Homo sapiens: one gene and its partners. The protein of the gene in region 2 purifies or fractionates together with the protein of the main gene of each other region. This does not show direct contact. Each region holds a gene or a part of one and is shown on either strand. Other genes may lie near its edges.

Region 1 (5,965 bases), about 150 Mb from region 2:
CAGGATCCTTCTCTGATCCTTGGCAAAAGGGCCATGGGACAAGCAGCCAATGAACCCTGGCTGTGAGCTTTTTAGGATTATCCCTTAGCCGTCTCCCAGGGTCTAGTGCAGGCCAGGCACCCAGCAGACCTACGGGGTCAAGCTCTGGGTCGGTACTGCCCACGACTTCCCATTCCTCCTCAGTGTTCTAGGCCTCCAACTCGGAGCAGGAGCCTATTTCAAGGGCCTGGAATGCATGTTCCAGAGGTGCAGTAACTCTGGGGCCTTAGGAGTCTGTTCAGTGGCATGGACAGGAGGATGAGGCAGGGGAGGCCAGACATCAGCCCTTTTCTCTTCAAGGGGCTCAGCTTTGAGAAAGAATTAACCTGGCTGGGGAGGGAAGCCAGAAAATGGGGAAGGGGGGGCTCTGCTATTTAGGCAGCACCTACCTAGTACTCAAGAGGCTCATTGCCTGGATCAGCAGTAAGCCAGGGCAGTGCCAAGTTCCCTGGTCTTGGAAAGGGAAATCAGAATCATGCATAATTCCAGAAAGAATGGGATAAAGCCTCAGAGAGCCCCACCTCTCCCCCATGTCAGATGATACAAGCAAGGGCCAGACATACCTGTGTGTGGCCACTCGGCCAGTGAGTGGGGAAGTCTGGGCTAGATCCCAGTTCCCTGGACCCCCTATGCAGTATTCTTTCTCCAGGGCTATGCCACCCTGAGCCCAGGGAAGGGAAAAATACTTTAGCAGTGGAATCCCTTTTTCAAATGAATTGTTATCCTGGGAAACTATTTCAGTGACAGCCTTGGAACCCTTCCTCATTTCAACCACTGTCCATCTTCACTCTGTGATCCCCAGGGCCACAATGTTCCAATATACGGACCTTTCAAACATGGTTCCCAGTGGATCAGGGTAGATCCAGACCCCAGGATACTTGGAATTACAGGGATCACCACACCAAGAAACTGGAAGCTTTCTCAGGAGCTCTGCTCCTGCGAGGACAAAGCTGGGTCTTGTATCCACTACTTGTTGGTTTGTTCTGTTAATGGCAGAACCACGGTGCAGAGCCACTTGGGGAGGTGTGTCTGCTAGACACTATAATGGATTCACAGCTGCATGTTGGGCCTCTGCTGCTGGAGCAAGTGGCCAGTATCCTCCTCACAGTTGCTTTCTATAATTGCAGTTGTAAATATTGCAGTAGCCATGCTTGTAAGGACTTTTATAAATAGGCTTCCTTCACGGAATCCAAGGTGCAAAGCCTTATACTCACTGATGAGCTGGACTCTTCTGGGATATAAGTGATCCTGAGTGAGAGCCAGGCTTGCCAGGTACTCTTTGGGGCTAGCAGGACCACAAAGCCTGAGGATGTGCTGAATGCTCTCCATTCCCTTTTTTTTTTTTTTTTTTTTTTTCTTTTTGAGATGGAGTCCTGCTCTATCACTCAGGCTAGAATGCAGTGGCACGATCTCGGCTCACTACAACCTCCTCCACCTCCGCGGTTCAAGCAATTCTCCTGCCTCAGCCTCCTGAGTAGCTGGGATTACAGGCATGCACCACCATGCCTGGCTAATTTTTTTTGTACTTTTAGTAGAGATGGAATTTTGCCATGTTGGCTAGGCTGGTCTCGAACTCCTGACCTCAGGTGATCCACCCGCCTCAGCTTCTCAAAGTGTTGGGATTACAGGCGTGAGCCACCGCGCCCGGCCACGCTCTCCATTCTCTTCTGGGCCTACCTCACACCAAATTTAGAAATTTGTATCCAGAGGGACTTTGGAGACCATCTTTTCTCATTTTCCCTTTATACCCATTTTACAGACAAGGAAACGGAGACCCAGAAAGGTGAAGGGCCCTGTTAGAGTCTCACAGTGAATTAGTAGCAGAGCCAGCACTGGAACCCACTTCTCCTGACCTTTGGCCCTGTGGTTTTCCCACCACACCACCTAGGCGTGCCTCATACAATCTGTCTGGAGAGTTTCCTTCCTTTTTTGAGAGGGAGGGAGAGAACAAGGAGCATTGTATCCCACATCAGTTGGGAATTCACACATCTCCCAGCAGCTTTAAGGAAGCCTGGGCAGTGGCAGCCTAGAACTTTGGCTGTTCAGGTTGCCAGCCCTCAGGGCTTTGCTCTGAAGCTTACTCCGGCCGTCCCCAGCCTCCCCCAGCCTCCCTGCTAGGGAGGAGCCTGCCTCCGGAGCCGGCCTGGTGCCTCATAGGCCTCCTCTTGGGAGGTTCCCTCTGTGCCCTGTGGCGGCGACTCTGAGGAGGTGGGGAGGGGAGGGTGTGTGTGGCTTGTGGGTGGGTACATGGTGCTGCTGACACACTCAAGCTGGAACCATGTTGATCTCACCGCCCCTGAACACTTCCTATGTTGACAGCTCCCACAAGTTGCCCCACACCTCACCAGTCAGGGGAGAGACTTCTAGGTCAGTCAGGAGGCCAAAAGTTGTCCAGAAGCAGCCAAGGGGGAAGGAGGGCTTGAACTGGGTCAAGGCCAGCCTCCTTCTTTTCTGCCTCTCATTAGCGAGGGATCTAGGGGGCTTCCTGGGCCTTAAGGGGAGCCCTGGTGGCCCTTTCAGTGGTGAGCCCTAAACCCAGGCCTGCAGCAGGGCCATAAGGCTTTCTTGGCAATTCTGCTGGGCTCAAGACAAGACAGGTTTAGGAGCAGGAAGTATTCAGGGCCTTGGCCAAATGGCCTCATGACCTCAGCCGGGCTGTGGACTTCCCTCTGTGTGACAGGCATGGGATTGTCCTCTCTGGTGCTGTGATGATTGTCCTCTCTTTGCTGTTCAAAACATCACAGCAACAGACCTCCAGGGCTAAAGGGAGCATTGTGGGACTCTGACTTGGACCCAACCAGGACAGTGGCTCTTTCCTTCATGGGGTGACCTGAAGTCCAGGCAGTATCCCTCCTTGGGGTAGCTTCTCCCTGCTCCTCCAAAAGTAGCTTTGATTTTGCCCCCAGGTGTCCCGTGAGAGCTGACCCAGGTCTTATTCCCCTTGAGATCTTCTAAGCTCCTAGTGTAGCACCGGGCAGTTAGTAGGTGTGCAGTCAACGTCTGATAACTGAATGGGTGGGCTTTCCCTTTGTGTTGCTTTCTGCTTTGGCCCACAGCCGTCTCCTTGTGTCACCTCTGCCTGAGAGAGGCATTGGGGTCACAGCTCTGCAGGGCTCTGTAGAACCAGAGCATTTGCCCTGCTCAGTAGAGCAGAGTTCATGCTTTCCGGTATGAGTGACAGATTCCTAACTGTCTCACTGGAAGAAGCTAGATCCTAAGCTCTTTGCAGGGGAATCTTCCTTTGTTTGGTTCGCAGATAAATCCCAAGCCCGTAGAACTTCATCTTGCACATGGAACCAGGTGCTCACTTGTTGAGTGGACAGATATGGTGGGCAGCAGGATTTTACCTGCTGGGGGCTCCTCTTCCTTTTGCATGTCCTGTCCAACTTAGCACTGTACCAGGCATGTGGGGGAGTACCTGGGGTTGAACCGTGAGCAGCTGGCACCCTGGGATTGGCAGAGGAAATCGGGAGTGGAGTGGCACTCTTGGCCCTCCCATCAGCAACATAACATTCCCCCCTGGGTGGTTCTTAACCTGTGTGGGGACTCCAGGCCCAGCTACTTAACAAAATGGGGATAATGAGGCTTGCAGAGCAGGCAGAGTGATGGGAGGAGAAATTAGCCAGGGTTTGGAAGAAGCTGCTTAAGTGGGTGGGGCCACGCCTGGCTGGCAGGAGGGGACTCTTGGAGAAGCATCCCCAGCTCCTTCTCTCTGGCCTGAGCACTGAATCAGGGCTGATGTGATAGGTGCTGCCATCATGCCTGGGCCAGTGAATCTCTGACCCATTGCTGTCCTGTTTAAACATGGACTTTAAACTTGGACATCACCTTCCGGGGCAGATTCAGCTCAAAAGAGCCCTCCCAGGCAGCCAGACATCAGGGATCCACATGTTCTGGGGCCTCTGAGTCCAGCCATGCTCCTCTTGCCCTTCCTTCTCCTTTCTCCATTTCCAGAAGGGCTTCTTGCCTTACTTAAAATACAGTTTTTAAAAAATACTGTGAACCATTGTCTCTGTTCTAACCATGATCCTTGGCTTTGGCCTCTAGCTGTCTCCTGAAGAGGAGGAGAAGCGTCGCATCCGGCGGGAGAGGAACAAGCTGGCTGCAGCCAAGTGCCGGAACCGACGCCGGGAGCTGACAGAGAAGCTGCAGGCGGTGAGGAACTCTGCGTAGGGTGGGAGCACCTCTGGGTGGGCTGGAGTGAGAGCCCCGGGGGTCCTGATCCTCTCTCCCACAGCTGTCTCCTTACCCACAAATGCCCTACAGATGAGTCAGTGGAGATAGAGCTTTCCTTCCTTTGGACACATGGGTCAGCATTGTGTTGATTGAAAAGAGAGAGAGAGAGGGAGGTGGCGTTTAGCACCAGCCAGGGCCCAGAGGGAAGAAATGAACAACCTTCTGTGGGGGTGCTAGCCACGGTTTTTACGCAGCACCTGAGTGTTCTCTGCTCACAGAACTGTGGGGGCTCCTGGGTGAGGGATGATGGAGGGTGGGAGCCAGGGCAGGTCCAGACCTGCCCCATCCAGGGCTGCTTCCCGAGGTTCCAGCCACTCCCATGCCTGCCGCCATCAGGAGTGGCCCAGCCTGGCCTAAGCACTCTGGGTTGGGCCAGGGAGAAGTCTTGATGGAGATAGGTCACGTGGCAGCAGGGTTGTATTTTCTTGGGGTTTTCTCATTTCCTTTATGGGCAGGCGGGTTCCCCACCTCTATCATGAACTCAGAGCTGTGGCCATGGTACCGCGTGCTGCTCTTGTGAGTCACTCTCCCGTGCCGCCTAATTGCCCAGACCTGGGGACCCGCAGCCCTGCCCTTCCCTCTGTTAAGCTTGACCTGACCAACGTCACGTAACTCCCTTCAGAGCCTGGCCCTGCAGGAAGGGCCGTGTGCTGTGTGGAGGAAGCCCCGAGCCAGGGTTGACTCTCCCCAGTGGAATGCTTTCAGAGTGAGGAGATGAGAGAGACTCTGTCAGTGGTCCTCACAGTGACTGCCCAGGATGGGGCTTTGGAAAACATCCCCTCACACTTTTTTTGTTATTATAATTTTTTTGAGATGGAGTTTCGCTCTTGTCGCCCAGGCTGGAGTGCAGTGGGACGATCTCAGCTCACTGCAACCTCTGCCTCTTGGGTTCAAGCCATTCTCCTGCCTCAGCCTCCCAACTAGCGGGGATTACAGGTGCCTGCCACCATGCCCGGCTAATTTTTGTATTTTTAATAGAGACAGGGTTTCACCATGTTGGCTAGGCTGGTCTCGAACTCCTGACCTCGGGTGATCTGCCTGCCTTGGCCTCTCAGAGTGCTGGGATTACAGGCGTGAGCCACCACGCCTGGCCCATCCCCTCACTTGAGTTAATGTTTCCAGGTACCATCCACCCACTTAGGCTTGTCTTTCTCTGTCCTGCAGCCCTCACTCTGGGGTGTTGAATGAATTGAATTGCGTGAATTCTGTGATGCCTGTAGTAATGGCCCTCGGAGGTGTTAGAGCCGGGGAGGATGAGTGGGAATTCTTCATTCCCAGGTGAGGCAGATCCACAATCCACTTCCTCAGCGGGCCCTCCCACCACTAACCTTTCTGTGATTGGCACTTCAAGGAGCTGTGCCCCATGTGGCGCTCCTCACCACCCGCCCCGGAATAGCCCTGCCCCCTGAGGCTCCTCTACTTTCCTTCCCTCCTCCCAGAGGCCTCACACCCTACTCCCCTGCCTCCCCCACCTCCCCCGCCCTCTGACCCAGCCACCCAGGCCCCTGAGCCACATCCTCCACAGGAAGCCTCTCAGAAGCTCATGACGTTCGTCAGACCCTTGAGACAGACGGAAACTGTTTTTCACTCCGGAATATGCTGTCCTCTGCTGAACGAAGCCCTTGCCCGTATGTCCTCACTGATGAACAGGAATCCATGTTAGGGAAAACGTGGGGAGGAGGCTGGTGAC
Region 2 (5,834 bases):
CACACTCAAGGGAAACACGTTTCCTGAATTCTTGCACACTGATAGTGTCTGAGGAGTTATTTTTATACTTAATCAGTTTTGGTAGATACAAAATCTTTTACTCACATTTTCTTTCTACAGATATCTTAAAGAGGCTATTCTTTTTCCTCCTGACATAGTGCTGCTGTTTTAACTCTTGCTCTTGTAAGTCATTTGCTGTTTTTGTCTAGTCAAACCCAAAGTTTGTATATTGCCATTGGTTGTCCCAGTATAATAATCTCAGGTAGGCAGGTTACTCTTCCAATGTGTAGTTCCAAATTTTTTTCATCAAAGTAGTCATTTGATTTTGTTCTGTATGTTGCATTTTTTCTGTCTCTAGAGTTTGTCATACCCCTACTAATCCTTTTTATCTCTTTTCTTTCTGATTTCTAAAAGTCCTCCATTTTTATCTTTCATTTCTTTTAGGGCATATCTGTTGTTCATCAGCTGTTGTTTATTCTAGTCTTAATTTATGAGTGATTTTCCTCTATTACTAACATTTTCCCAAGTTCTTCAATTTTATTTTTGTTGTTCTTTCATATCTTGTATCATTTTCTAAATGTCTTAAAACTCAATTTTAAGTACTACTCTATAGCTTCTATCCATTTATGGGCATGCCTTTCTGGTGTGCTTTCAATGTCTACAGGGATGTTATTTTCTTCCTTATACTCTTTTTTTTTTTTAAACAAACTTGCATGATTATAGTTTCACGTTATTTTTTTTGAAGTCAGCTTCTCTGAGCTTTTAAAAGGAGGCTTAGTTCAGGGTAACTTTCCTAACATCACAGATATTCCATTTTTGTTGTTTTTATATAGTGTTCAAAAATAGGACAGCTCGCTTTCTGAAATTTTCCTGGATCTTTTAAAATAAATGACAGATACAAAGATGGGTAAGATATGATACCAAGAGAAATAACAAAATATAGCAAACAAATATTTTTTGCCCAAAAGCAAACTTCACAGTCCATAAAGGCCTATGCAAATAAATAAAACACCCCCTCCAATAAACAACCCTTTTAATAAAATGTGTATTAATTCAAATACAAATGCACGACTTTTAAAATGGAATTTAGTAGCCAGTTCTATATTGAATAATTGAGTTCTGCACATTATGAAATAGGATATAAAATATAATCCTAAACTGGAAGAAAAAGACTTCAATGTAAAAGTTTTCAGATGAAAATATACTTTATAAATGAATCTTCATTCATGCCAGTACATTCCTTAGTATTACTTAGTAATACTTCCCAGCTCTTTAGGAGGCCGTGGTAGGTGAATCACTTGAGTTCAAGAGTTCAATATCAACCTGGCCAACATGGTGAAATCCCGTCTCTACTAAAAATACAAAAATTAGCCAGGCATGGTGGCACACGCCTGTAGTCCCAGCTAATTGGGAAGCTGAGGCACAAGAATCACTTGAGCCCAGGAAGTAGAGGCTGCAGGGAGCCAAGATCGCACCACTGCACTCCAGTATGGGTGACACAGCAAGACTCTGTCTCAAAAAAAAAAAAAAAAGGTATTAATTATGTTCAATGGGATACTGACATTGTAATTCCATGTAGAAATATTCTTTTTTGATATATCCTCACGTATTTAGAGTAAAATGACATCTTATCTGGGATGTGCTTTAAACAAAATAAAAGGGAAAGAAAAGAAACAAGTATGGCAAAATTTAATGGTAATTAAAGCTGGTATATAGTGGTTCATACATATTTTCTCTTTCAATGAATACTTAAAGCTTTTTATAATAAATCACCCTTTCAAAAAATGTTCAATACATATTGATATCATTTGGATATCTGTCCCCTTCAAATCTCATGTTGAAATATGGTCCCCGATGTTGGAAGTGGGGACTAGTGGGAGATGTTTAGATCATGGGGGCAGATCCCTCATGAATGGCTTGGTGTCCTCCCTGCAGTAATGAGTTCATGTGAGATCTGGTTATTAAAAAGAGTCTAGAACTTCCTTCTTCCTGCTCTCTTCCTCTCTTTCACCATGTGATATGCTCACTCTTCTTTACTTTCCTCCACAAGTAAAGCATCATGCTTCTTGTACAGCTACAAGCCAATTAAACCCTGAGCCAAATAAACCTCTTATTTTTAATAAATTATCCTGCCTCAGGTACTCCTTTATAGCAATGCAAACAGACTAATACACATATCATTGACAATGTTTATTATCAAGAAACTTTAGGTTTTTTAAAAGAATGCTCGTTTTAGAATACACCAAGAGGACACTCTGTGACAGGACATATACAAACAAGGATAATTAAAATATTAAATACTATCTAAATTAAAAGACCATAATTCAAATTGCTAATTATAATATTTGTGTCGGTAGAAATAACTATAGTTCCCCTTCATGAAATTCACCCCCACGTTCTCATGAAGACTATGACGTCTCACCACAATTTCAGTTATTTAATTTACAATAATCAATGCTGAGTTTTCTGTGCTGAAGCATGCACTGTTACAGAAAGCACAAAATCCTATTTACAGGGATTTTTAGTTTTCTTTAAAATGTATCTCAAGCATCTTTTAAAGTGCGAGCTACAAATAGGTTGTATCCTTAATGAAAAAGGCTTCTTTCTAAAAGAAGTATGAGATAGCTATCCAATACTGCAGGAACAGTTATATAACTAACCGAAGGAACCAGCAGCACTCTGCTAACTCTGTTTTAGTGTAGCAACCTCCTTCTTGGTGTTCTACTACCAGCCAAACATGTACTCCATTGCTTTGGATACAAGACTTTCATCTTTTTTTGGCGTTTGTCTGTCAGAAATAACCTATTAAAAAACACACACAAAAAAAACGGTTAGGTTATTGTTACTTCAGTGTCATAGGCAATTCTAGAATTGCTCATTTAAAAGAGAAACACCAAAATGCATTTATAGCACTAAATTGTAAATTTTTGTATTTTTAGTAGAGACGGGGTTTCACCGTGTTAGCCAGGATGGTCTCGATCTCCTGACCTCGTGATCCGCCCGCCTCGGCCTGCCAAAGTGCTGGGATTACAGGCATGAGCCCCTGCGCCCGGCCTGAATTGTATATTTTTAAAATTAAAATATGGACTTAGAATATCCTTATGCTTTTAAGAATGCCAAAATTTTATTCCTTTGGCAAAGCAAATAACATCTGTTTCTTAAATTAGAAAATTGAATAGCTGGGCGCAGTGGCTCAGGTCTGTAATCCCAGCACTTTGGGAGGCCAAGGTGGGCAGATTACTTGAGGTCAAAAGTTTGAGACCACCCTGGCCAACATGGTCCCATCTCTACTAAAAATACAAAAAATTAGCTGGGCGTGGTGGCACGTGCCTGTAATCTACTCAGGAGGCTGAGGCAGGAGAATCACCTGAACCCAGGAGGCAGAGGTTGCAGTGAGCTGGGATAGCACCACTGTACTCCAGCCTAGGTAACAGAGAGACATTCCGTCTCAAAACAAAAGAAAGAAAAATTGAATAACAAAAGCTGCACTGAATGGGAAATTTAAAATAACAGTAATAGAACCTAAAGAAAAAAACAGTTCTAGAATAATCTCCAAATTTCAGAGGAAGTCAAAAAACTGAACTACCACTATCTGCCCTACTAAAGCACAAGTGTTTCATGTACTGTGTGTTTCAGGACCTGTTTCTGCAGCTGGTTAAGTTCGAACACTTGGCTAGTCAGTAGGAGACAATAATATACTGAATGAGATCATAATACTTCTACCATTCTTCAAAGAACATAATTAACTTCTTTAAGCTTTTTTGAAGTGAGAAATTTTTTTCTGTCTGGAGGTTGGTCAATGTCTTCATTTAAATAACCAAAGCTACTCCAACCTAAGGTTCTGCACTTTGGATACCATCAATTTAGTCATCAATTTAATAAAGTTTTAATGCGCCCTCATGTCAAAGATGCACACAGGATACATTTCGTATGTATGCAAATATAACTTAGAAAAAGCTAAAACAACTTTCAAAAAATTTAAAGGAATGGCAAATAATTTTTTTTTTTTAATTCATGATAACTTTCCAATTGGCCAAGATGTTAACTTTAAAGCAGAAAACTTTTAAAGCGTAAAGGTTTCATCAAGGTAATAGCCTCCACAGGAAACATTTAATGGCATACAAATCAATACAATGAAAAAGTTAAGCATGCTATGCACTCAGCCATTAAAGTACATCTTTTTTTATCCAATCCTTAAAATACCTGATAATCACTAGTAGAGGCTTTGTATGCTGTAGCAAGAGGTCTCATGGTAGAAATCCTAGGAGTACTTCCAGGTTGTGTTGGTGTACCTAGAGTTTTGATTGGTGGTGTAAAGGCTAAAGATGGAGATGATAAAGCACATCTGTCACTGCTTTCCATAACACTCTGGAGAAACAAAGAAATAACTCCTTTGTTTATAAACATAATACATATCATCCAGTATTACATCCTACTTAGAAAATTTAATTAAAAGATAAAGATGAAATACTTTATTTGCTCTAATTAAACTTGCAAATAATTTTAGGCTTGAGAAAATATTTGCTTCTTAGGTAGCATTTGAGATTGAATGCTCAGACAGAAATCTCACTTCAGTGACCTCAAACAATCTCAATACAACTATAGACCACAAAAATAAGAATTTCCTAAAACACTATGAAAAATCAGCAAGGACAAAAAAATTCTTAGGGAAACCTGGATTGGAAAGAATCAAACTCCAGTGCTATTTAGCACTTAGTTACCCCAAATATTCTTCTGGCCTCTGCAAACATTTGTTACAGCACAGTATTATAACTATATAACTACACTGATATAACAGATTTTAAGAATAGGAACCACATCTTGCTTTGTTCATTAATGTGTGTATACTAGCACCAAGCACAATGCCTGGAATGTAGTACAAGTTCACATATACTTAAAGAATGTTCACAATGATTTAACAAGCCACAAAGAACAGTTTAAATTGTACTCTGTACTATTTAATGAGTATATATAGAATAATTTTAAAATAGTTTTAAACAGAAATATTTTGAAACGAAAACCTTTGACATTTAAAAGTTAACTATCAGTTAATGTTAATATGAACTAATTCATTCTGAAATAGTACCATTCCATTTAAGTACTTTAAAGAATCTGGTATCGCTTTGCACAAGAAAGAGAATGGATTAGTAGTCAAGAGACCTAAAATCTAGGCCTCACCTTTAACAACTCTGGACAAGTTACTTAAGCCCTCTCAGTTTCTTTATCTGAAAAATGAAGAGGTGAGGACAGATTACCTCTAAATTCTAAACTCTATGATTAAATACCTTCGGCTTACCACAAAGAGTACTATAAACATCATCACATTTTACAAACTAAGAAAAACAGACACAGTGAAACCAAGTGACACAACGACCAATTTCAATCCTTGGTCTTGTGCTCTTCATATAGATTAAGCTACTTTGCCTACATCACCAATAACTTACTTTGTCAATACATGGTTTTACACCAATCATGATGGATTCTCCAAAAATCCTCCCATCTTTGCTTAAGGCTTTCCGAGCCTGCAGTTTAGATTGATAACGAATATGCATCCAATTTCCTGTATTAGACATCTGCAAAGAATAAAACTGTCTCTTAAAATAGAAAATATATAAAATCTACATCTAATGAATTCTACTAGAAAATAGGAACATGGTAAGATAAATTTACTTCCATTCCGTATTTGATGCCTTGTAAAAAGCTGTAAAGTTCAACAAAAATCGTATTTAGAACAGCTTCAACAATCTCTCAATTCTCTACAATCAACATGTACATATTCTCTGAAAGTAAGATACTTCTCAAAATATGTTTATTGTAAAGAGATCAAAGCAACA
Region 3 (6,644 bases), on a different chromosome or scaffold from region 2:
GGAGGCTGAGGCACGAGAATGGAGTGAACTCGGGAGGCGAAGCTTGCAGTGAGCCGAGATCGTGCCACTGCACTCCAGCCTGGGCAACAGAGCGAGACTCCGTCTCAAAAAAAAAAAACCAAAAAAATAAAACAAAACAAAAATTAACCAGGCGTGGTGGTGTGCACCTGTAGTCCCAGCTACTCAGAGGCTGAGGCAGAAGAATTGCTTGAACCCAGGAGGCGGAGGTTGCAGCGAGCTGAGATCACGCCACTGCACTCCAGCCTGGGTGACAAAGTGAGACTCTGTCTCAAAAAAAAAAAAAGAATCTACTTCAGGAACCTAGGAAAAAGGTGAAAGTGGCCTGAACTGGTGGGGATGAAGAAAAAGAGACAGATTTGAGAGATTTAGGAATTAGCATAAACAAGATGTGAAGACTAATCAGACATTAGTAAAGGAAAGAGCAATACAACAGAAACACCTAGGTAATAATTACATCAGCTAATATGCTTACAATGTGCCAGCTCTGGACTAGGTGCCTCACATTAACTAATCAAGCCATTATGACAATCCTACAAGATAGGTATTGTTATCACTGCATTTATTTTTATTTTATTGAGACAGGGTCTTGCTCTGTGACCCAGGCTGGAGTGCAATATCACCATCACGGCTCGCTGCAGCCTCAATCTCCTGAGCTCAGGTATTCTTGCCTCGGCCTCCCGAGGAGCTGAGACTACGGGTGCACACCATCATGCCCAGCTAATTTTTAAATTTTTTGTAGAGATGGGGTTTCAGTGTGTGTGTGTGTGTGTGTGCGTGTGTGTGTGTGTGTGTGTGTGTGTGTTAAGACGGAGTCTCACTCTGTCACCCAGGCTGGAGTGCAGTGGTGTGAACTCGGCTCACTGCAACCTCTACCTCCTGGGTGCAAGCAATTCTTGCACCTCAGCCTCCTGAGTAATTAGGATTACACACGGAGTTTCACCACATTGGCCAGGCTGGTCTCGAACTCCTGACCTCAAGTGATACACCCGCCTTGGCCTCCCAAAGTGCTGGGATTACAGGCATGAGCTTCCGCGCCCAGACTATCACTGCATTTTTAGATGAGAGAACAAAGGTGTGAAGAGGCTAATTAATATGAACAAGGTAATCTAAGTAGAAAGTAGCAGTCAGGATTCAACCATCTATCTACCCCAGAACCTATACTCAAACCACTTTTTCCTGAATGAGTAATATGATCATTCCTTAAAGTGAACCATCCAGAGAAGCAGATTTGGAGAGAGAAATAAAGAGACTGGATTTGAGCATGCTGAATATATGAAGTCTGCGAAATATTCAAGCAGGATAATTTGGCAAACACGTGAACACCAGGTCTGATGCATCAACTGGAAATCTAGCCCCAAGAACACCAACATTTAAGGGACATCAGGAAGAGGAGCCACCAAAAACCCTGAGAAGCAGCAGCCACAGAAGTAGGAGACAAGGAGCCTGGGAATGAATGGCTTTTCAACAAACTGATATTCAACTTCACACACACAGGCATGCCCATTAAACTGTACTGAAGTACCAAAGATCAAAGCTTGACAGCACATGTGTTGGAAAACAGGCACTCCCATACACTGCTGGTGGGACCATATACATGTACCATTTTGACAGAGGGCTATTTGGAACAGCTCACAAAATTACAGATGAACATACCCTCTGAGCCAGCAACTTAATTTCTAGGAATTTATCCTACAAATGGTAATGGTATTAATAAAAATATTAAGTAACCCTTTTTTTTTTTTTGAGACAAGGTCTCACTCAGTGCCACTGCACTGGCACAATCTTGGCTCACTACAACCTCCACCTCCCAGGCTCAAGTGATCCTCCTATACATAAGCCTCCCAAGTAGCTGGGAATAAAGGTGCATGCCACCATACCCAGCTAATTTTTGTACTTTTCTTGTAGAGAAAAGAACATGGTTTCGCCATGTTCCCCAGGCTAGTCTCAAACTACTAAGCTCAAGCAATCTGCTGGCCTCAGCCTACCAAAGCGCTGGGATTATAGGCGTGAGTCACTGTGCCTGGCATAAATAACCCTTAAAGGAATTAATATGTGCCATTAATAGGTCCAGGTGCAGTAGCTGTAATCTCAGCACTTTGGGAGGCCAAGGCAGGCCTGAGGTCAGGAGGCCAGACCACCCTGGCCAACATGGTGAAATCTCATCTCTACTAAAATACAAAAAGTTAGCTGGGCGTGGTGGCACATGCCTATAGTACCAGCTACTCGGGAGGCTGAGGCAGGGGAACTGCTTGAACCAGAGAGGCGGAGGCTGCAGTGAGCCGAGATCGCACCTCTGCACTCCAGCCTGGCAACACAGCAAGACTCCGTCTCAAAAAAAAAAAAAAAAAAAAAAAGAAAAAGAAAATGAGCCGGGCGCGGTGGCTCACGCCTGTAATCCCAGCACTTTGGGAGGCCAAGGCGGGCACATCATCTGAGGTCGGAAGTTCAAGACCAGCCTGACCAACATGGAGAAACCCTGTCTCTACTAAAAATACAAAATTAGCTGGGCGTGGTGGCACATGCCTGTAATCCTAGCTACTCGGGAGACTGAGGCAGAAGAATCGCTTGAACCTGGGAGGTGGAAGTTGCAGTGAGCTGAGCACGCCACTGCACTCCAGCCTGGGCAACAAGAGTGAAACTCCATCTCAAAAAAAAAAAAGAAAATGAAACCAGGTAGTGTAGCTCCACTCCTACAAGTGCAAAGTGGATGACCTATGTAGGAGATTATTCAGTGCAACCTTATATCTGATCTTGCTGAGCTTCAGGTAAAAGCTCAGAAGTGGTAATGCCATGAGGTGGGGGCAGGGAGCAGGTTCACCTAATCAAGCCAGAAAGCAAGGCAAGTTACTAGAGATGAAATGGAAGTACTTTTTCCATAGTGTTCCTGGGAAGGGCAAGGAAGGGAACCTGACATTTATTGAGCATTTGAGTTCTATAATAAGGACTAAAAATTTCATATGATTTAGGATATACAGCTCTCGTGGAGACAGCCTGAATAAAAGTCTTTTGAAGAACACCCCAAGGTAAAGGGGTGTTGACTCATTTTCCAGGATCTGCAGACTGTGACCCAGGAAACCCTTTGCCATGCCTCACCAAATGTTGATGCATCTCTTCCACACTTGCTCCCGGTGATGGATGAAGGCAGTTCTTGTGCCATGGTCCAGCCTTCCAGGGGTCTTTAGGGGATCCTTTGTCAGTTGTAGGACAGGAAGATTGATCCACTATAGCACAAAAGTGAGGAGTGTGACGGTGATTCAGTCTCTTCCCAAATCTTTAATTCCGTGCCATCTCCAACCCACCGCTGGGCTAAGTATAAGAGATTCCAGAGGTCTGTTTCCCATTTCCACAAAGCTAACACTTGTGAGAATGGGAAACAAGTCTTAGCTCCCGTATCTGTGCAACTAGAATAATATTTCATAGGGTTGCTGTGATTATGAAACCATATGACATTTTTAGAAAACACCTGACTCAGCCTCTTTCTTACATAGCAAACGCTCAATAAATGTCAGTTTCCCTTCCTTGTCCTTCCCAGGAACACCATGGAAAAAAGTTCCATGTTGTATCCTTCTGATCCTCCCCAGATACTGTCCCCAACTTTTAGATAGTTCTCCCGCATCCTCACACTCCCTAGATTCTCCCTCATTCTCTCCATTCCCTCTAGGCCTCCTCCACAGCTCCTTAACCGTTCCCCCGTTATACTCCAATCCCAGTCCTAAAACAGATTCCAGCCCTTCTAGCCTCCTGCCGGGGCCAAGCTGTTTCCACTCCGCCAGACTCTGTGACCCTGCCCCTGTCACACTGCCTCCTTTCCCCAGTAGTCCCCGACTCCGCCCCCATGCCTGTAGGTCCCCTCCCTCCTCGCCCTGGCCACCTGGCCCCGGAAGTCGGGGGGCGGGCTCTCATAGCTACTGCCCGTCACCAGCTCGTTATTGTGCTCATATAGGGTGACTTGACCCCGAGGCGGTGGAGGAGGGAACAACCCCAGAGAGCACATCTTGCCGGTTCGCAGGACGTCTGCAGTCGGCAAACTCCTGGCCGGAACGGCACAGACCGCACTCCCGCAACTCGGTTCCCGGGCTAGATTCGTATGCGGACGGGTACCGCAAGGGACAAACGGCGAGGCGGAACTCAACGGAAGTGAAGAAAAGACTAACGGGAAAGAAGGACGAGTACGCGGTCCCGGGACAGACCTCCAAAGCTTCTTCCTGCGCCCCCTGGCGGCCGGAGGGGGAGCAGCGCGGACACGTCCCCCGGCCAACCGTTGGTTACCAGGCTGGAGTGGGGTTTTTTTCTGTTGTTTTCCATGAGACTACTGTTTTTCCCAGCTCCGAATTCCCGAACACCTTCTCCCACTCACTATCTTAGCGCTTAGAAAGCCCGAAATAAGCCACATTCAGGGAAGTACCAAATTAATCCTCCCAGGCCTGTGGATCACCCAGAGGAAAATACAGGCTATGTCACAGGCAGCTGGCTGGAAAGCTGAGGGAAAAGCCTCAGAGAGGAGGAACAGTGCTGCACCCACACGGTTAGGCGTCCTGGAAAGGGAGGTGGGGACGGTTGGAAAACTAACATTTCCTGCCAGGCGCGGTGGCTCACGCCTGTAATCCCAGCACTTTGGGAGGTCGAGGTGGGTGGATCATCTGAAAGGAGTTCGCAGACTAGCCTGGCCAACATGCTGAAAACCCCATCTATACTAAAAATACAAAAATTAGTCGGGCGTGGTGGCGGGCACCTGTAATCCCAGCTAATCGGGAGGCTGAGGCAGGAGAATCTCTTGAACTCCGGAGGGGGAGGTTGCAGTGAGCCAAGATCGCACCATTGCACTCCAGCCTGGGTAACAAGAGGGAAACTTCGTCTCAAAAAGGAAAACTTTATTTTATTTTATTTTTTTGAGAGACAGGGTCTCGCTCTATTGCCCAGGATGAAGGCAGTGGTGCTATCTCAGCTCACTGCAACCTCTGCCTCCCCGGTTCAAGCGATTATCCTGCCTCAACCTCTGGAGTAGCTGGGATTACAGGCATGCTTCACCACGCCCAGCTAAGTTTGTATTTTTAGTAGAGACGAGGTTTTACCATGTTGGCCAGGCTGGTCTCAAACTCCTGACCTCAAGTGATCTGCCTGCTTTGGCCTCCCAAATTGCTGGGATTACAGGCCTGAGCCACCTTGCCGGGCTGCAAAACTATTTCCTGAGCACTTGTTACGATAAGTGCTTTTATAATCTTTACAACCCCATAAGGTGGGTGCTGTTCTGTCACCATGAGGAAAGTGAGTCACAGAGAGATTGGACCTAGATACACCCAAACCAGTTATTCTCACTTAAGAATAAAAGTAAGGCTGGGTGTGGTAGCTCACACCTGTAATCCCAGCACTTTGGGAGGCCGAGGCTGATCTCTTGAGCCCAGGAGTTCAAGACCAGCTTGGGCAAAATAGCAAGACCCTGTATCTACAAAAAATTCAAAAGTTAGCCAGCGTGGTGGTGGCAAGCGTCTTTAGTCCAGCTACTCAGAAGGCTGAGATAGGAGAATCCAGACTACAATGATCCAAGATAGCACCACTGCACTCCAGCCTGGGTCAAAGAGCGAGACCCTGTCAAGCAAGCCAGAGAGAAAGAGCCGGGCGCGGTGGCTCACGCCTGTAATCCCAGCACTTTGGGAAGCTGAGGTGGGCTGATCCCCTGAGGTCGGGATTTCGAGACCAGCCTGACCAACATGGAGAAACCCCATCTCTACTAAAAAATACAAAACCAGCCAGGCATTGTGGTGCATGCCTGTAATCCCAGCTACTCGGGAGGCTGAGGCAGGAGAATCCCTTGAACCTGGAAGGCGGAGGTTGCAGTGAGCAGAGATCGCGCCACTGCACTCCATCCAACCTGGGCAACAAGAGCGAAACTCCGTCTCAAAAAAAAAAAAAAACAAAAAACAAAACAAAACAAAAAAAAATGGGAGGGAAGGGAGAGGGAGAAAGAAAGGAAAGAAAGAAAGAGAATGGGGGCCCCTCTTACAGACTTTGGAAAAAACATTGAATTCTTTGAGTCTCACTTTTCTCATTTGCAGTGTCCTAATTATTTCATATGGTTGTTTTCCATACAAAATAATAAAATGAAGCTATTTAATAAATTTTAAAGTGCTAAACAAATGTCAGAGGTTAATAGCTATAACTGTGCCATCAACTAGGTGACCTTGGTCAGAGTTCATTAACAAATGTTAAGTGATTTGAAGATGTAGAAGGCTGTCCCCACTCCCAAGAGCTACCAGTCTCATTGAATAATCTAGGGGGCATTTAGTTCTAGTATTCTGGATTCCGTGTCTGCCCTTCTTTTTCACCTGAAAAATTCCCCCCAAGAGAGTTATTACCAGGTCAGAAAACAAAGGGCTCCAGAGTCTCCTGAAAATGCACTTCACCTGAGAAGGCAAGTGGATCTCCTCTAATCTAGTACTTCTCAACTGTTAAGGGACATAGGAATCACCTGAGCATCTCCTAAGGTGGCGCTCAGAGGCTATAGTTCCAAAGAATCCCCAGCTGATACTGCACAGACCACATTTTAAGTAGCAAGGCTCTAACCTAGCGGTCCCCAACTTTTTGGCACCAGGTTTAGTGGAAGACAGTTTTTCCAGGGGGAGCGG
Region 4 (5,965 bases), on a different chromosome or scaffold from region 2:
TAAAAGCTAACCCAACTAACTTAAAAGTGAATCTGCTCCTACCATACTCTCACCCAAAGCTGCATGACTAGTCAGAAGGCTGCAGCAAGCAGCACGTGTCTGGTTGGGTAGAAAGTGACACGGCAGTACTAATGGCATATAGAGCCGTATGGGATCCCGAAGTTTATGAAATGCCTTTAACCATTCATTCCCTATTAATCAGTCATTCCATCAGCAAACATGTTATAATTTCTCCCATCTTAAAAAATAAAAACATGACTGGGCGTGGTGGCTCGCGCCTGTAATTCCAACACTTTATGAGGCTCAGGCAGGATGACTGCTTGAGGCCAAGAGTTTGAGATCAGCCTGGGCAACATAGAGACTGTGTCTCTACAAAAAATAAAAATTAAAAAAATTAGGCAGGCATGGTGGCAGGCACCTGTAGTCCCAGCTACTCAGGAGGCTGAGGTGGGAGGATCACTTGAGCCCGGGAGTTCAAGGCTGCAGTGTAGCCATGATCATACCACTGCACTCCAGCCTGAGCAACAGACAGACCAAGAACCCATCTCAAAATTTTTAAAAAAGTTCCTTGACCCCTCAATTCCTCCCAGCTATTGCCCCATTTTTCTGTTCCACTTACAACAAATTCCTTGAAAAATGTGGTTTTTCTTGTGGTCTCCAATTCGTCTACCAATCTCTCCTGAACTCATGCATTTTTTTGTCCCCACTACTCCAGCCAACAGCTCTTGTCAAGGACTCAGTGACCTCCGCATTTCTAGCTCAACAGTTAATTCTTAGTTCCCGCCCCATGCTACCCATCAGCAGCATCTGACACTCCCACCTTCTCCTCCTTGAAACTCTTTCTTTTCTTGGATTTCTACCCACCTCAGTCTCTGTTGCTATTCTTTATCTCCCAAACTTTTAGCCATTGGAGGGCCCCTTTCTTGGATATCTCTTTTCTTCTGTATTTACATTCAAGAGTTTGCATCGAGTCTCATGCTTTGAATACTATCTATACTCTGAAAACTTCCAAAGTTACATTTCTAGCCCAGAACTTTCCCCTACACTACCGCTATATGCCTAATTTCTTACTAAGTATTTTCACCTGGTTGTCTCATAGGTATCTCAAAATTGGCTTGTCCAAAATCAAACTCCTGATTTCCCTCCCCTCACCTCTATCAAATCTCCTTCTCCAGAATCATCAGTAAATTCCAACTCAATAAATTGCAACTATATTATTCCAGATCTTCAGGCCAAAAACCTTACCAGTGAACACTGACTCTTTCTAGTATACACCACAACCAAACCATAAGCTAATCCTATTCCATCTAACTTAAAATACATACCTAGACCTTGACCACATCTTACAGCCCCCACCACTACCACTCTGGTCCCAGATACCACCATCTCCCACTAGATTACTTAACACCTTAACACCGTCTCTGGGCTTACATGCCTACCTTGCAAGAGTTTAGTCCCAACACAGCCCCTAGAGCAGCACTTTCAAAATATAAGTTACATCATATCATTCTTGTGGGCAAGACCATACGGTGACTTTCCATCCCACTCAGAGATGAAGCCAGTCTTTACTACAGCCAATGAGCCCTGGGTGCCTGCTACCTTTCTGATCTTATCACCCACTTACCACTCTCCCCTCACTCACTCTGCTCCAGCCACACTGGTATCCACATTGTTCTTCACACAAGCCAAGGCCATTCCCATCTCAGATGCACTGGGCTGCTCCCAGCTCTCCCTTCAGGTCTCTGATCAATCATTGCCTTATCAATGAGACTTCCCCTTATCACTCCACATAAAATGATACCCTCTCCCTTAGGAACTCTCTGTCTTCCTTGCTCTGTTTTTCTAGTTAAGACTTATATCAAATTTCTTCCTTCTTATGCATGTTTTCCATATCTTGAATATGACCTGTTGAGATGCATCTTACAGTCAATAGCACGTCATGGGTTAAGGCATCTTTTTTCTTAATAGCACATAAGTCTTATAATTAATGATATTTTATATTTCAGAGAAACAGAATATAATACATTTGCTTACTCACTGATTTCCCCTCACTCGAATGTAAATATTACATGGGCAAGGACTCTGTTTTGTTTGCTTTTTTCCCAGTGCCTAAAAGCACACCTTGGATATATAAAGAACTCAAATATTTCTTACATGAAGTTATCAGGTCAAGTCATATGAAATTACAATGTGTATAGCTCAAACCAGTCAAATATTGGCTGTTTCATTTGAGTCAATACACGAAGCATAAAAAAAAAAAAAAAAAAGCTTCTTATTCCTGATGACTTACTCATGTGAGATCCTTAATGTTCTCAATTTTACATGCAAATATAAATCCTATAACCATATCATCCTACCTGTTCACGTTTATTCTGAATCCATGAATAAATCACACTGGGTTGTCTCATTGTCTTACCCTCAGCACTAATAGAGGTAGATGGAGAAGGATTAGAAAATTCAGTCATTTGCTGATCTATTTTTAAAAAAGAAAAGGCAAGATAAGAACTTAGGCTGTCTGATCCTCTGCAACATGACATTTAAAATCTTAAAAAATATATAATTCTCACCAGAAGCTGATGTCCACAATCTTGGCCCCCTTCTTATTAGCTGAGGACTTTGCGGTGACCCATAGCAGGTGTTTACATCAAAAATTCCAGCCATCCGATTCATTACACTAGAGCCAAATGGGGTCCCAAATGGGCTCACAACATCAGGTGTAGATAATTTTGAAGAAAACAGTGATGTTTTAACTAATGGTGGCACTGAAGGCCGAGGCATCTGGCTAGATTTTGGTGTCTGAAAAGCAGTTTCTTCTGTAAAACAACAGATCCAGTGCTGAAGAGGCAACCTGATCCAAGCAGGCTAGCAGCAACGCTTTCAAATTCTACACATACCAAATTTTTGTTTAACGCATTTACCCAAAGCTCAGTAGATTGTTTCCATTTATGATTATAGTCTCAAGATTCGATTTTACTACTGCATTCAAGCTCCACTCAAAGAGCTTTATACATCTTCTTCTGTCAGATCGATATAGTCTCTCTTTTTCCCCCCCCATGAATATCTTCATCTTCAACGTCAATTTATCTAACTCTAAGCAATTTTGAATGAACTCATCAATTCACATTTTATTTCTAATTGGCAATTTTAATTACTGCATTAGAATCTATCCAGTTTTACTGCATTACTATTTTAAGTATTACTTGACTGAACATACCAAATCTATATTGTGAACATATACAGGAAAAAAATATTAACCTTACCCCATTTTCCCCAGTTTTTTCCTTTCCTTTTCTTTTTCTTTCCTTTTCTTTTCTTTGAGTCAGGATCTTGCTCTGTAGCCCAGATTGGAGTGCAGTGGTGTAATCTCGGCTCACTGCAGCCTCAACTTCTGGGGCTCCAGCGATCCTCCCACCTCAGCTTCCTGAGTAGCTAGGACACAGGCACATACTACCATGCCTGGCTAATTTTTTTATTTTTTGTAGAGACAGATTCGCCATGTTTCCCAGGTTGGTCTTGAACTCCTGGGCTCAAGTAATCCTCCTGCACTGGCCTCCCAAAGTGCTAGAATTATAGGCATGAGCCACCACACCTGGCCTGAAAGTTCTTTCAAGTTAACAAAAGTCACACCAAAGGCTAATTTGCCCAGAATATCTATAAATCTGATCTGTAAACAGCTTTTTCAAAAGTCATCTTATGACTCTCCAATTTAGTAATAGAGTCTGTTATACAAAAACAAAAGGAACTTTTCTTGTCACTCCAGCACAAGCCACAAAAACAAACACATTGCATTAGGATTCCATCTTCTTTTTATTATTATTATTATTATTATTATTATTATTATTATTATTATTATTTTGAGATAGAGTCTCACTCTGTGGCCAGGCTGGAGTGCTATGGCGCAATCTTGGCTCACTGCAACCTCCGACTCCCTGGTTCAAGTGAAATCTCCTGCCTCAGCCTCCCGAGTAGCTAGGATAACAGGCATGCACAACCACATCCAGCTAATTTTTGTATTTTTAGTAGAGACAGGGTTTCACCATGTTGGCCAGATGGTTTTGACCTCCTGACCTCATGATCCGCCCACCTCGGCCTCCCAAAATGCTGGAATTACAGATGTGAGCCACCTCGCCCAGCTGGATTCCATCTTCTTAATAAAACCACCATAAGAAATATAAGAAATTAAACATCCCAAGTACCAAATTTTCATTATATGACTTTTCTTTTTTTTTTTTTTTCTCCTTAAGAAGGAGTCTCACTCTGTCACCCAGACTGGAGTGCAGTGGCATGATCTCAGCTCACTGCAACCTCCACCTCCCGAGTTCAAGCAATTCTCCTGCCTCAGCCTCCTGAGTTGCTGGGACTATAAGTGTGCAACACCACAGCCAGCTAATTTTTATATTTTTAGTAAAGACGGCGTTTCGCCATATTGGCCAGGCTGGTCTCAAACTCCTGACCTCAAATGATCCACCTGCTTCGGCCTCCCAAAGTGCTGGAATTACAGGTGTAAGCCACCACACCTGGCCCATTATATGACTTTTTAAAGGTTAATGGAAATTAGAAATCTTTGAAAAATCAATTTAAAAATTAAGACTGGAGTTTTTAAGAGTTTTACAATTATTCTTCAAAATATGAGACAAATTTTGGCTGAGTGATGGTATATGACAAAAACTTACAATAATGAATGCTCCATATTTGGTCAGACTCATGATCTACCCAACCCAGAATTACAATGATCTTTCCAACGCTAATTTGATGGAACTAGCCTATTCAAAATTCTCCAATGGCTCCATATCTCTATAGAATAAAATCTAAACTTTTTTTGTTGCAAACAAGGCTTCCTTTCATTATCAAACATCATCTTATCCAGTCGGACTCCTTTTGGACAGATTTCCTTTTGGCAGTTATATTGTATCATTATTTGTGTGCCTTCCACTAAAAGGTCAGATCCAAGAGTGTTTTCCATCTGTGATTCCCTGGCTTCTAGCACATTGTTTGGTATGCAGTAGGAATTCAATAAGTATTTGTTGAATAGAGGAATGCTGATCTGAAAGCTGATAACATCTGAAACACTCTCAAACCTTTCAAAATCTGATGTGTGTTAATTTATTTAAATCATTTTTCATATGTAATCTATTTGTTTTGGGGCTATGACCCCACCAGAGTACTGATTTTGAAACTAGATGAGTTTGCTTTGATCTATATAGTGATTTTTAAATATCAAGATTAGTTGCCAATGTTTAACAACTGAAAGATTTCACCTCAAAATTTGTTTAGATTTCAGGCTTCTCTTTTTTAAAAAGACCGGAAGTTCACATATGGGATCCAAAGTCCCATATGGGAACAATGAAGCAGGGCTAACCAACAGCTTCCCCCTTCAGAGGAAGCCTGTGCTCACAGGTTCACCACCATCCTCACCCAGCCAGTTTCATCCATTTTCACTAAATGCCTGGCTCCAAAACACATGGAACATTAAGTCCTTTTATCAGTCTTACATTCATAGGTGTCTTCTACCTAAGGGATTTGGTGAACAAGACAGGTTCCTCCACCTCTACTTCTTCCTCTCAGCTTTTGTCTTTTAAATGGAAGGGGTACTAACATTATGCCCCACTTCCAAATCACCCAGTCGTCTCAGCTGCTCTTCTCTGGGACAGCAACTTTTTGTCTCTGGACTACTGCAACCAGAACAGCAACAGATATTGTCTGCAAAAATTCACCTGGCTTTGTGCTAGAGTAAGCTGAAGTCTCCTATTTAATAGCCATCATTTTGGTAGTGTTTTTAATGCTACCACCACACTGAACTTAATTTGTTTCAAATTAACCAATGAAAAACTGCATATACTTAGAGTGTACAACGTGATGTTTTGGGCTTAATTTTTTCAATCTACAATGATACCCACGTCATTTTCTTGGTTCAATATAAGATGCTATATGTTGGATCAATTTTCCCTAAAAATATACACCTCAC
Region 5 (5,965 bases), on a different chromosome or scaffold from region 2:
CATAAGCAGAGTTTTAGTGCTCTTTTCTGATGTGATAAAATTGTCATTTTGATCCTTTTGTATAGTTCATAAGCGTGATGATTGGGGTTTCACCTCATGTGTAAGATGTGCCTCCCTCAAACCTTACTACAAGGTCAGTACATTACCTGTCTGACATAAAACATGAAAAAAAATTGTAATCTTATGTTGGTTGTTACATTATTTAGAATCCTACATTTAGAGCTAAGAGGCAACTTGAAGATCATAGTTCAACTGATTTTACAAATGAGAATGTCATGGCCGGGGTAAGTTAAACGACCTGCCCAAATAACTAGAAAGTGGCAGATGAGAATCCACATTGCCTAACACCTAATTCATCACTCTCTCTACTCCTCTACAATAGATATTTACTCACATTCAATAGATACGTACTGAAAGTTAACTACGAGCAACACACTCAGGGATTAAAAAGTGAATCCAATCACCCCCATACGGAATCTAAACAATGGTGGGTTTTAGATAATATTTTCTCAGTTTTAATATGCAAGTCATCACATGAAGCTTTAGGTGAAATGTTAGAGGAATATCTGAAATTAACTCTCCTCATAGCTGTAATTCTTCATTTTTAATCCTTCTATCTACTCTGTAGCCCTTCCAACTACAGAAGGTGGATGTCAAAGTGAAAGCATCAATGACGATGATGATGGTGATGATGAAGGCAATGAAGATGATAACACCAATTATGAGCTATTCACTTTTTGTGAGCCATTATTCTGAAACCTTCATATGCATTACCTTATTTAATTATCTTAACCCTTAAAGGAAAGATACTATTATTATCTCTATTTTACAAAGGATATGAAATTAATAAGTCAAATGCCCAAACAGAGGGTAGTTGAATTGGGGATTATACCCCGGCATGCCTTCATTACCACTATCTCCCAAGATTTTCTGGCCTTGAGTCTTTCCTTCATTAGCTGGAAATGACTTGCCCCTTCTGGATCTCAATTTCTTCATCTGTGTAATGATGGAGTGGGAAAATTATTATTTCCAATGGATCTTCCAAGTAGAGCATTCTGTGATTTACTGATTTGTGATAGTTTACAATCTCTTGTGGCAGAGGAAGGAAGCCACTTTGCAAAAGCTAAGGATGATTTTGACCCAAATTACAAACTCCAGACCTTTGACTATACAGAGGTTTCAGAATAACAGAGAGAGGGAGTAGTTACAGGTTTGACACATCTTTAACCTTCAGCTGGGCTCCAGCCTCAGGTGCTTTTTAAAGCTAATCACTAACAACAGTGTTTAAGCAAGAAAAAAGGTTTTCGAAATGCCTAATGATGATTAGGAAGAGTTTGTAAAAACATGGGAAAATATAATGTTATCATATCAAAGAAAAAAGCGGGATATAATAATGGGCTGCTTTTTTTAAAACACGGAGAAAGAAGCAAGAACATTCAACAGTTGTTGTATCGGGGTAACAGGATTTATGAGATTTTTTCTTTCTCCTTTTCCTTATTTCTCTCTTTTTATGTAAGCTTAAATTATCTACATAATTAGAGGGGAAACTTTCTTTACAAAGAGAAAAATGGTACCAAATATTCTCATATTGATTGCTCCTGAAAAGAAAGAAAACACTCTCCTGAAAAATATCTCAATAACAACACTACCGAAATTCCAGAAATACATGTTTAGAGGAAAACTCCATTATTGCCCACTATGAAGGAAGAAGAAAAGACTCCTCTATTGCTTCAAGCCTAGAAGAATTAAGTTTTTTAGAGGATGTCACAGGAATGCTGGCAGGGAAAGTTGCTTTGGAGTCCAGGGACACACAGCTTTGTAAAGCTCAGCCCAGGAAAAAGAGAACAGGTGCAGCAGATGAAGCAGCAGACCGTGACAGCCAAATGACGGTGGCCCCATCCAGAAATCCCAGCCTGGAGCAGGTTCTCTCTGAGCAGACCTGCCATGCACCACAGCCAGCCACATGGCCAAGGGGACTTTCCATGAGCACAAATGCCCTTTCCTCACTGAAGCACTGCAGCAGAGGGAAGACAGGTAGCATATTTCATGGAATATGTAACTATTAAAACAAACCAAACCACCAAACCAAACTGATTTATGCTTTCATCAGGCTTTAGGGTAAGCACACTGTATAGATAACACCCATGTTCCTATATAAAAACACAATCTATATACACATGTGGCCCAGTTTACAACACAGATCAATGAGTGTGGCTCAGGATGGTTACAATGAAACATTTCACTCTTTGGCACTGTGAAAATATTTTGTAAACATTCACTATTTCTCTGGTGATTCCTACTTATACTACAAAAATTCAGGAATGACTGCAATTTTAAAATCACATTCAGGATGCTATTTAATTACATATGAACTCTCTGCCTTACTTGAACAGTATTTTACACTACTTTGTGGCAAGTAGATCAAGACGGATCTGATATACAAAGAATAGGAAAACTAGAACAGGAAAAGTCAGCTCCTCCCTTGGGAGACTGACAGACAATATGTGGCATCGACAACACATCACACCCTGATTCAGCTGAGGTCTGCAAGGAGCCATGGTGAGCCATGGTGCCCAACTTACCAACAGCTCCAGACTTGCCTTAAGCACGTACATCACTCTGCGTGTCTCAAGCACTACCACTAGCAAGAAGGCAACAACACAAAGGCCTGCATGTGTCTTCTAATTAGCTCATTTATTAATTGAAAAAGACATATTTCTGTTACTTGCTACCAAAACTCATTTGAACGATTATTTAAAATTTGAAAATATAATAATGCAATGAAATAAACAGATGTTATCTCGCGTTTTAAAGGCATTTTTTTTGTTTCCAGGTACAAAGTTGGCAGCTACTGACTTTACCTGGTAGTCATTAAATACATCTAACATTAGATAAAGAAATTTAACCTACCTCATCAAAGGTGGTGTCATCTTTCTTCAAAGCTATAAAATAAGAAGGAAAAGGAAACAGTTATTGTGAAAAATTCCAAAGAGACTAAGTTATAGAAAACAGAAAAAAAAACAAGGCAGTATGGTGTTTTCATTTCAGAAAGTAAATTGTACCCCAACCTGAATAACAATGTTATGATACAAATATGAAAACTGCAAATGAAAGAGAATTGCACAGCATGCATCTTTTGAAATATTTTTTATAAATATGCAAATAGAACTATCCTCCCAGATATTAGAAAGAAGCACACATAACTGTTCCCTATCTCTTCTTTAGTTGGAACATGTTTCAATGAAAGTATAAAAGAATCACGAAGTAATCTTAAAGAAATTTCCCCTTAAACTCCTGGGTTTTGAGAAGATATCACCAATTGTTAGGATGACACCTTCTTTGCACAGAGCCCTGAATGACATTTTCATACTAAGTGAAGTGTAAGTGTGTTGATGAAAGACTAAGCCTGCTAAAACAAGCATTGCAGAGTAAGAGACATAATTTAAACATTTCGACATGATAAATTTTATAACAAAGTATTTCAAAAGAAAACAATACATTCAGAATATTTTATAGGAACCAGAAAATACTTCAAATTTACTTTAAATCCAGACATGTGTCACTTAACAACTGGGATACATTCTCAGAAATGCACCCTTAGGCAATTTCATTGTGCAAATGTCACAGAGTGTACTTATACAAACCTAGATGGTATCACCTACTACACACCTAGGCTATATGGTATAGCCTATTACTCCTGGGCTACAAACCTATACAGCATGTTACTGTACCAAATACTATAGGCAACTGTAACACAATGGCAAGTATTTGTGTATCTAAACATAGAAAAATGTACAGTAAAAATACAGTATTGTAAACTTGCGGGACCACCATCAAGTATGCGTGACTGTTCATAGCTTTAGAACTGGAATTTTTTCACCCAACATAGAAGAAGAATTTCACCTACAGTTGGCAAACATCTAGTTCCTTACATTTTACAATTACTTAGAATGTTTCATATTAAGAAGAATGCATTAAATAGCTAATTTATCTGAAACTACTAGCTGGAGAAATGTTTCAAATTTACGGAACAATGCATAGGTGTTTGCTGCTTTATACATGATTTAGTCTGGATAGAAGCACTTGGGTAGCTATTGGAAAGCTTTGTTCTGACAAAAGCAATGAAAAGCAAATTATTCTGGCAATTAAGCTCTGAGAAAAGTAATGTGCCTAAACTGAAGCTATCATAGAAAAGCTTAGGATACATACTCTAACAATCGTGAAAAGGTTATTTTCTCTGTTTCATATATTTGTGTTTTCAAGAAGAATGTGATTGCGGTGAGTTAAGGGGGATGCAGGTAGGCTGAGGGAAATAAAACGTTTCTAAAAGTTTCTTATTTTTCCCTTTTGCCTAATAAACTAATCTTTCTTTATTGGATAACCATTTCTTCTGAAAGTGAATGGAAAATAAAAAGATAGTCCTTTGTTGTGAATGGCTTATCTTGCATTCAATTACTTGCACATGTTTTAATTATGTATTTAACTTAACCTACATTAAAACTAAAATAACCTACATTAAATCTAAAATAATCTGTTTTGATAGAACCATATTAAGATCCTAGCTAATTCCTAATGACTGCATTTTCACTAGAATTTAACTTCTAGGCTACAAGGCTCTGTATAAATACCAGTCAACAATATTACCATACTGTCTACTCCCTCAACCCAAGGCGTGTCCTTTAATTAACATACTTTGACTAATGAGTCCTTTACAAAACATTAGTAATGTAATTCTAAATAGAGACAAGTTGCTTCATCTGAAAAACTAAACTTTTAGGAATAAGAAATTAATAGCCCATTGATTTCAAATACAAAGTCTAACATAAGCAAATTGCCATACAGCCTCATACCTAGCTCATTTAACAAAGATTAATGGAACACGCGCACTATGTGGCTGCCATGCAAGATGCAAAGCTACAGCAGCAAACTTACAATTCACGGCACAAACTTTTAAATATACTGTCTTTATTTTGGACATTATAAAAGTTCTGGAAATTTAGCCATGTGTTTTCTTAAGCAAAGCATCCAATAAGAACTACAGTTGACACTACCCCACCAGGTGCAGTGGCTCACACCTGTAATCCCAGCACTTTGGAAGGCTGAGGCGGATGGGTCGCCAGAGCTCAGGAGTTTGAGACCAGCCTGGGCAACAGGGGGAATCCCTGTCTCTACAAAAACAATACCACATACATACATACATACATACATACATACATACATACATACATACATACATAAAATTAGCCAAGCGTGGTGGTGGTGCCCTGTGGTTCCAGCTATTCGGGAGGCTGAGGTGGGAGGATCACTTGAGCCTGGGAGGCAGAGGTTGCAGTGAGCAAGATTGCGCCACTGCACTCCAGCCTGGGCGACAGAGTGAGACCCTGTTCCTCTGCCGCCAAAAAAAAAGATACTATCCCTTAGGGAACTGCAAATATGGAATGAAGACCCTCAAGTTGAGAAATGAAGACAGCAGAAAACTGGAATTCCTTGAACAACCAAACTGGACTATTTCCTTCTTATCTCCTAAGTCCTGACAATTCTCCAACATTCTGGACAAAGAGGTGGGGTCTGGAGGTATCAAGAGGAGAAAATAGAAGAAACTGCAAGTGTATTTGCTATGACATAATGAACAGGAAGCCAGATTATCTCATCTGCACAATACTCTCAAGCTCAAGGTACCACAGAACACCATTACTTCACTGAAGTCATTCACTGCTAGACTGACACCTTACACGGTTTCTTCTAAATATTGAGTCCTTGTCCTGAACAGCAGTTAACAGTGACAACAAAGACCAACTTAAGATGTCTTTGCCAGATGTTCATCAGGTCACTGATGAGTAAATTCTGACCCAAACAAGAACACAAGATCTCATTATTGATTACATTCCCTGATTGCCATTAATCATTCATGTAAATGTAAATCCACAATTATCTTTAAGGATTTCATGGAGTAACAAGCATATTA

The links.
Region 1: the proteins of NUP35 (region 2) and FOSL2 purify together in Homo sapiens (co-immunoprecipitation; one large-scale study listed by IntAct). This does not show direct contact.
Region 3: the proteins of NUP35 (region 2) and AAAS purify together in Homo sapiens (affinity purification with mass spectrometry; one large-scale study listed by BioGRID and IntAct). This does not show direct contact.
Region 4: the proteins of NUP35 (region 2) and NDC1 purify together in Homo sapiens (affinity purification with mass spectrometry; one large-scale study listed by BioGRID and IntAct). This does not show direct contact.
Region 5: the proteins of NUP35 (region 2) and CDK14 purify together in Homo sapiens (co-immunoprecipitation; one large-scale study listed by IntAct). This does not show direct contact.

The regions. Positions count from the first base shown.
Region 1 is NC_000002.12:28,404,673-28,410,637, forward strand, and holds part of FOSL2 (fos-related antigen 2), read left to right. Parts: intron 1-4,086; coding exon 4,087-4,194; intron 4,195-5,800; coding exon of another isoform or gene 5,801-5,903; intron 5,904-5,965.
Region 2 is NC_000002.12:183,158,022-183,163,855, reverse strand, and holds the end of NUP35 (nucleoporin NUP35), read right to left. Parts: intron 5,574-5,834; coding exon 5,445-5,573; intron 4,369-5,444; coding exon 4,204-4,368; intron 2,803-4,203; coding exon 2,725-2,802; 3' UTR 2,176-2,724; downstream 1-2,175. UniProt on the Homo sapiens protein: Functions as a component of the nuclear pore complex (NPC).
Region 3 is NC_000012.12:53,317,451-53,324,094, forward strand, and holds the start of AAAS (aladin), read right to left. Parts: upstream 4,161-6,644; 5' UTR 4,016-4,160; coding exon 3,893-4,015; intron 3,243-3,892; coding exon 3,115-3,242; intron 1-3,114. UniProt on the Homo sapiens protein: Plays a role in the normal development of the peripheral and central nervous system.
Region 4 is NC_000001.11:53,794,332-53,800,296, forward strand, and holds part of NDC1 (nucleoporin NDC1), read right to left. Parts: intron 2,814-5,965; coding exon 2,568-2,813; intron 2,474-2,567; coding exon 2,358-2,473; intron 1-2,357. UniProt on the Homo sapiens protein: Component of the nuclear pore complex (NPC), which plays a key role in de novo assembly and insertion of NPC in the nuclear envelope.
Region 5 is NC_000007.14:90,601,195-90,607,159, reverse strand, and holds part of CDK14 (cyclin-dependent kinase 14), read right to left. Parts: intron 2,943-5,965; coding exon 2,911-2,942; intron 157-2,910; exon of another isoform or gene 52-156; intron 1-51. UniProt on the Homo sapiens protein: Serine/threonine-protein kinase involved in the control of the eukaryotic cell cycle, whose activity is controlled by an associated cyclin.